2 linked regions of the Homo sapiens genome follow. The protein of the gene in region 1 purifies or fractionates together with the protein of each later gene. This does not show direct contact. Each region holds a gene or a part of one and is shown on either strand. Other genes may lie near its edges. The genes, in order: NSUN3 and ZNG1B.

Evidence for each region.
Region 2: the proteins of NSUN3 (region 1) and ZNG1B purify together in Homo sapiens (affinity purification with mass spectrometry; one large-scale study listed by BioGRID and IntAct). This does not show direct contact.

Annotation. Positions count from the first base shown.
Region 1 is NC_000003.12:94,129,061-94,132,660, reverse strand, and holds the end of NSUN3 (tRNA (cytosine(34)-C(5))-methyltransferase, mitochondrial), read right to left. Parts: 3' UTR 829-3,600; downstream 1-828. UniProt on the Homo sapiens protein: Mitochondrial tRNA methyltransferase that mediates methylation of cytosine to 5-methylcytosine (m5C) at position 34 of mt-tRNA(Met). mt-tRNA(Met) methylation at cytosine(34) takes place at the wobble position of the anticodon and initiates the formation of 5-formylcytosine (f(5)c) at this position. mt-tRNA(Met) containing the f(5)c modification at the wobble position enables recognition of the AUA codon in addition to the AUG codon, expanding codon recognition in mitochondrial translation.
Region 2 is NC_000002.12:113,440,493-113,444,320, forward strand, and holds part of ZNG1B (zinc-regulated GTPase metalloprotein activator 1B), read left to right. Parts: intron 1-858; coding exon 859-945; intron 946-3,274; coding exon 3,275-3,371; intron 3,372-3,828. UniProt on the Homo sapiens protein: Zinc chaperone that directly transfers zinc cofactor to target metalloproteins, thereby activating them.

The sequences.
Region 1 (3,600 bases):
TTAAAATTTTTATTTTATTTTTATTATCACACAATAACATTAATAGAAACTATTCTGTCAAGATAGTATTTCTGGTTCTCTCCCATTGACTTTGCCTGAAGCCACTCCAAATTCTGACATTACTCTTAATGTTTTCAGGACAGATGGTATTAGAGCTTTCAGCAAAAGTAGTAGATTATCAGCATATATTAGTTAACTTGTGAATCTCCATCTGAATATTCTTCAGATACCCATGGGATCTGTGTGATTTTCTAGCTTCAATGTCAGCCTGAAGAGTAACATCAGAAATGGGCATCATCCTTACTTCCCTCCCCAGTGCAGCAATAAGGCAGGGAAAGGGAGATTGTAAACCATTGATTTAAACCATATAAATGGATTGAAAATAAATTGTGCTATCTGCTTTATTTGTCCCCAAAGCCAAATTTACCTAACACATAATACAAGTAGTCTCATTCAATTGCATCAAAGGACTTTTTGGCATCTAATAAAATTATTGCTATTGGTTCTAATTTTCTCTTTGTATTCCAGATGAGTTGCATTCATCTATGCAGATTATCTGATGCTTATCTCCCAGGCATAAAGGCTTCTTGGATAAGGGTCTATTAGATTTGTGATTATTTGGTCACATAGCCAGGTGTGCAGGTAGCTATTATTTTCTACCTACCCACATTGTATGAAAGAATATTTTTCACAATACTGCTAAGGAAGTAATATGAAATCTTGAGTATAAGGTTATAGGAATATACATAATAAGATAAAGAACTGCAGGACACCTTGATTTCCAACCACAGATAATATCTGATGCTTAAAAAAATTCAGTACAAACCATTTAAATGCATTACATTTATTCAGTCTATTTCTGAAAGTAGTGGCTGTTCAGCGTGTGGACGGCAGGGAGAAGTTAATGTGTTGGTAAGCAACCTAAATTTTTATAAAGCTATTTTGAAAGTAACTCAGTGTCACAGAAAGTAATATCAATTACTCTTTGCTTTACAATTGACACTGCAAGTCTGCTCCAAATTTCCATTCTTCAGCTCAGCATCTGCAAAGAAAAGGAAGGCAGAGAATACCCTCCACTGGAGATTTCTGGGTATCAAAATCACAAGACACACTTCTTTACAATATGGCCTGAAACAGTTCAAAGGTTGTTGTTTTTTTCCCAAGTATTGATTAATCCTTTCATCCCCTGGGAATAGGGTATGACACAAAAGGAGGAAACTGAACAATGGAAAATAGGGGTAAAGTCAGTTAATAATCTTGAGGGTTCAAACAACCTACACTCTGTGAGACAGCATAGTGTTGGGAAAAGGGCCTGGACCTCGGAGCCAGTTTTGATCGCGGCTCTACCCTTTAACTATGAAATATTAAGTAAAATGATTTATAATTAGCCAAAGAGAAGGTGAGGGAAAACATGCATCCTTTTTTACAACTAATAATATATGAGGCCGAGCACAATGGCTCACACCTGTAATCCCAATACTTTGGGAGGCTGAAGTGGGAGGATCACTTGAGGCCAGGGGTTTGAAACCAGCCTGGTGAGGTCACATCTCTACAATAATAATAATAATAATAATTTAAAAATTAGCCAGGCATGGTATTGTGGGCCTGTAGTCCAGGCTACTTAGGAGGCTGAGGCGAAAAGATAACTTGAACCCAGGAAGTCGAGGCTGCAGTGAGCCATGATGACACCACTGCACTCTAGCTGGGTTGGGGACAGTGGGAGGAACTAAATTCCATTTGATTCAAAGTGAAAAAAAAAGGGTTGAATGAAAATGAAACTTTGCTGGCTTTGCAGGACTGGCCTGGCACCTGACCAGGAAAGGTTAAAAAAGGTCAAACAAGGCTCCCACTGTGTGGCTAGGAAGAGGTTTCTGGAGAAATGGATTTGGAGGATTTATCTGGTAATTCTCAATCATTCAGCTGTGGCCAAACTGAAAGCCTGTGAGCTGTACCCCTGACACCCAGAGTGTGGAAGCCCCAGAGGCCGAAGTCCCTTGGAACATTCACGTTCTCCCCTGGGATGGGGATGAGGAGGCCATGCAGAAAGACATGTTCTGAGAAACCAGTGATCTAAGAAAATAACATGTTACAAGACCATGTTTTTTCTAGTTTTAGAACATTTTATATAACTCATAAGTGTTTGTATAAAAATTCACGCAAAGTTGCTAGAGAGCATACAATTTCCAAAAATGTCCTGGGTTTTTGTTATTTTCAGTTTTCTAAGGATGCACTCCAATCAATGGAAAAATGCAGACATTATGCAAGATTTCATTATCTTTGGTAAAAGTATTCTCATTATTTTGTCTCTTCACAGTATTAACTCTGATATCCACTTTGTGCAGGGTCTGCTATTACTAGGATGTCATAAAAATGTTAAAGCTGGATCTACAAGAGGCAAGTATTTCCAAACAGCAGTAATAGCTCCTTGGCCCCCACCCCCACTTCATATATCTATACAGTCTGTCTATACATTGGCTGAACCCTTTACTTACCAGTGTAGCCTTGGCAAACTATAAACAGAACTGAGCTTTGGTTTTCTCATTCACAAAAGGGGGTTATAATACTTATTCCTGAGTTTGTTTTAAGCATCAATAAAGACAACATACACAGTGGGTGTGGTGGCTCACGCCTGTAATCCCAGCACTTTGGGAGGCTGAGGCAGGTGGATGACAAGGTCAGGAGTTCAAGATCAACCTGGCCAAGATGGTGGAACCCCATCTTTACTAAAAATACAAAAAAAATTAGCCAAGCATGGTGGCGGGTGCCTGTGATCTCAGTTACTTGGGAGGCTGAGGCAGAAAACTGCTTGAACCCGGGAGGCAGAGGTTGCAGTGAGCTGAGATCATGCCACTGCACGCCATCCAGCCTGGGCGACAGAGCAAGACTCTGTCTCAAAAAAAAAAAAAAAAAAAAAAAAAGACAACATATATAAACAATTTATAGAATATTCAATGCTCAATATTACCTATTTCATTATAATTATGGTTTATCTTCTCATTAAAAAATAATTTCAGCTTTTTAGATTCAGGGGATACATGAACAGGTGTGTTACATGGGTATACTGGATGATGCTGAGGTTTGGGGTACAGACGATCCCGTCACCCAGGTAGTGAGTGCAGTACCCAATAGGTAGTTTTTCAGCCTACATCCCCCTCCTCCCCTCCCCACTCTAGTAGTCACCAGTGTCTATTGTTCCTTTATGTCCATGTGTACTCGATATTTAGCTCCCATTTGTAAGTGAGAATATGTATTTAGTTTTCTGTTCCTGAATTTGCTTAGGATAAAAGCATCCAGCTGCATCCATGTTGTTGCAAAAGACATTATTTCATTCTTTTTTATCACTGTGTAATATTACACGAGGTATATGTACCACATTTCCTTTATTCAATCAACTGCTGATGGGCGGTTAGGTTGATTCCGTATCTTTACTATTGTAAATATTACTGTGATGAACACACAAGCGTTTATGTCTTTTTTTGTAGGACAATTTATTTTCCTGTGGGTATATACCCACTAATGGGATTGCTAGCTCAAATGGCAATTCTGTTATAAAGTTCTTTGAGAAATCTCCAAACTGCTTTCCATAGAGGCTGAAGTAAT
Region 2 (3,828 bases), on another chromosome or scaffold:
ATATTTTTGTGATGTTGAGCTTCCTAAAGTACTCTAAATATAAGCCTTCATCTCTTAAAAAGCTTTGAAAGGAATATGACCTAAAAGATATTAATACCCTAATACTCTGTAAAATCTTCCTAGTTATATACTAGAAAACTTAATGTATTTCAGAAGACATGTATAGCCTACATGTAAAAGTTTTTAGCAGCACTGTAATAGTAAAACACTGGAAACAAACCAAATGTCCAACAAAAAAAAAAGATAAAGAAATGATATAGTCATACAATTGAACTACAATACTATGCAGTTAGGATTTTCTTTTTTTCCTCTATGAATTTTAGTGTGTACGGTTCACAAGACTATTTTTTTTCTACTGGAGATTGACATATTGGGTTTTATATGCCACCTGCTGGATAAAGTTGGTATAGCTTTATGAATTTATCTTACTGAACATTCTGTCCATTGTTGACACTACCTGGCTCTATTCCCCATTTCATAAAAACTTTTATAGATTGTTTAAAGCATACTATAAGTAGCCATATAGTCAGCCTGAAGTTGCGTCTTGTTAATGTTGAAATAAAAGGTCATTATAAATAAAAGATTGTGTGTAAATTTTAGGGAAGGTTAGGCTAGGTTGAAGAAACTGTTTCAACTTGTAGGAGTGTTTGTAAATATTTATAAAATTTTATGTCTACATAAAGTATTTTGCAACAGGTTTCAAAGGATGCTTTAATCTTATCCTCTAGGATATTCTATACTAAAATAATATATGAAAAATAGCACGCAAATTCTCAAAAACGTTAGGATTCTTTATATGTTTTTTGTATCTTTAAAATTATTTTGAATTTTTTTATTTACAAAAAATATGTTTTATAGGTGCTGGGAAGACAACACTTCTGAACTATATTTTGACAGAGCAACATAGTAAAAGAGTAGCGGTCATTTTAAATGAATTTGGGGAAGGTAAGTAAAGTTCAATAAATGTCATGTTGCAAGATTTTGTGTGACTGTTTATTCCTCTGGTGAATTGCTATTCCATATTTAAAAATGAAAATGCAAGGTATTGTATTGATGTGGATAGCTTTAGAAAAGTTGGATTAATTTCTGTTAAGATTTATATGGGTTGAGATACTGAAATTAGTTTTAATAAAATTTTATTTTGTATAACTTTGGAATTCTTATTAACAGAATTAAACTACATTTTTACATGAAATAAATGACTCCAGAAGTAAAAATCTAGACATATGAAAAAACGTTTATTTTTTATTTTATTTTATTTTTTTTGAGATGGAGTCTCTCTCTGTCGCCAGGCTGGAGTGCAGTGGTGCAATCTCAGCTCACTGCCACCTCTGTCTCCTGGGTTAAAGTGATTCTCCTGCCTCAGCCTCCCGAGTAGCTGGGACTACAGGCGTGCGCCACCATGCCCAGATAATTTTTGTATTTTTAGTAGAGACAGGGTTTCACCATGTTGGCCAGGATGGTCTTGAGCTCCTGGCCTTGTGATCCACCTGCCTCGGCCTCCCAAAGTTGCTGGGATTACAGGCATGAGGCACCATGCCTGGCCAAAAAATGTTTTTTTTAGGAATTAGGAAGGCACTTTTGTATGGACTCTATTGCAACTCATGAAAAATACTTGAAAATGCTTCTGTTATTAGTTAACTTTGTTTAATGTTTATTATCTGCAATGCAGTTAAAACTCAATATTTTAAAAATAAAGGTAAACATATGGTCTTTATCCTCATGTATTTTAAGTTATCTGTGAAAATAAGTGTGCTTAACTTCTCAACTGAAATATTAAACTGTAGTCAAAAAAATAGCTCTAGACACAATACTTCTGTTATCTTTATAGAAGTTTTTCTTCATAAGTATGAATTGTAATCAAAGCTCACTTCTAGCCAAAAAACAATATCTATTAAATGATTTCTTTTAAAATGTACTATTTTTTTTCAGTTGTAAAAAGTAAAAGAGCTAGGTTTTATGAACAGGATGGGAAGCCAGTTATATTCGATTTCTGGTTTTAATAAACTAAAGAGAAAAGTGCTTTTTAGGCAAAAATCCTGAGATTTCTAATAACAGACTGTTTTTTTATCATCTTATTAAATAACCTATTGCACACTGATTACATTTATTCTTACTATTTTCTTTATTTTTTCCTGGATCATTTTCGCAATTTTATTTTTCACAGCATTCTCAATACTTTTCTTCATGTTTCCTTAATGTTCTGTATATAGTCCGAATTCTGTAGCAACCTCTTTAGAAGCTCTTTATTAATACCTAGCTGAAATATAAAAAATACGTAAGTGTAAAACTACTCGATTTTATGGGAGCTCATTTGCTTAGTGGGCTTTTAGAACTTCACCGTTTGGTATATTTCTTTATTAGAGGAAAAGTAAAACATTTAAAATAATTCTTATAGATAACAAGCATTTCAAATATAGTTTATTCTTTCTTAAGTAAGTATTGCTAGGAAAATATGTGAATTTGACTAAAAGTTTAGGTTTTTTTTTTTTTTGAGATGGAGTCTCGCTGTGTTGCCCAGGCTGGAGTGCAGTGGCACAGTCTCGGGTCACTGCAACCTCCGCCTCCCGGGTTCACGCCATTCTCCTGCCTCAGCCGCCTGAGTAGCTGGGACTACAGGCGCCCGCTACCACACCTGGCTAATTTTTTGTAATTTTAGTAGAGATGAGGTTTCATTGTGTTAGCGAGGATGGTCTCGATCTCCTGACCTCGTGATCCGCCCGCCTTGGCCTCCCTGTAAGTTTAATTTTTAAATGAGCACATGGTACACTGGCCAAAAACCTTCCTCAAGATGAACTAGGGTTTTTACTCATTGGGAATATTCAGCAGTTTGTCTAACAGAAACAATTTAGAAGAAGAATGAAAAGAAAAAGATAGATAAGGCAGTCTCTTAAGAGGTTGAAGGGCATACAAAATCCAGTATATAAAACATACTAGTCTATTTAGAAAGTTTACCCTGGACAAGAAAAAAATGCCTTCAAGATAGCTACTTTATTAAGAAATGGGGGTGGCCAAGTAAGAGGCCTAAGGAGGAAGTAGGTATGTTTATCAGTTTAGGATGTGTCTTTTTCAGGGCTTAAGTCATCTTAAATAAAAGCTAACATAATGTAGTGTACTGTAATTTAGATATCGAGGCTGCATGAATAAAATGAAAGAATATAAGTTATAAAATGCAGTTTCTGCTTTAAGATCTCCATTATTGAGTTATCCTCATCTTTGTTTTTTGTTGGCTAATGGACATAAGCTAAAGAGTGCTGTTTGTTAATTATTCTAGGAAGTGCGCTGGAGAAATCCTTAGCTGTCAGCCAAGGTGGAGAGCTCTATGAAGAGTGGCTGGAACTTAGAAACGGTTGCCTCTGCTGTTCAGTGAAGTGAGGAATGTGTTTACTGTGTACATGGTTTACTAGAAATGTTTATTGATTATATTTCCAGCTTTAATTTTCTTGAGTAATTTAACTGAATTTACACAGTTTGCTTCATTGTATTTTCAAACAAATAGAAAATAAACTTATTAGGAAGCATTTTCTTAAAGTGTTTCTTGCTGTCTTTTCTATCTGCTCTAATGTTTTGGTCCTTTTATTGAGTTTTTATTGCTTTTGATGTCAGGGCTTATTTAATCTCTAGTGCATGAAAGTCTCATATGTAAAAAATGATTATTCTGAATTTAATCTGTCATTGGTCATATTTCTAAGTGTTCAACCTTATAAAAAAAATAAATGACTATCAAAAAAGAGAAAAACCTTACATTATGTTCTACTAGTTAAGTTTTCAAGGACAGTGTTCACTAGTCTACCATAGACCCTAGAAGAGTTACCCAACACATAGTAG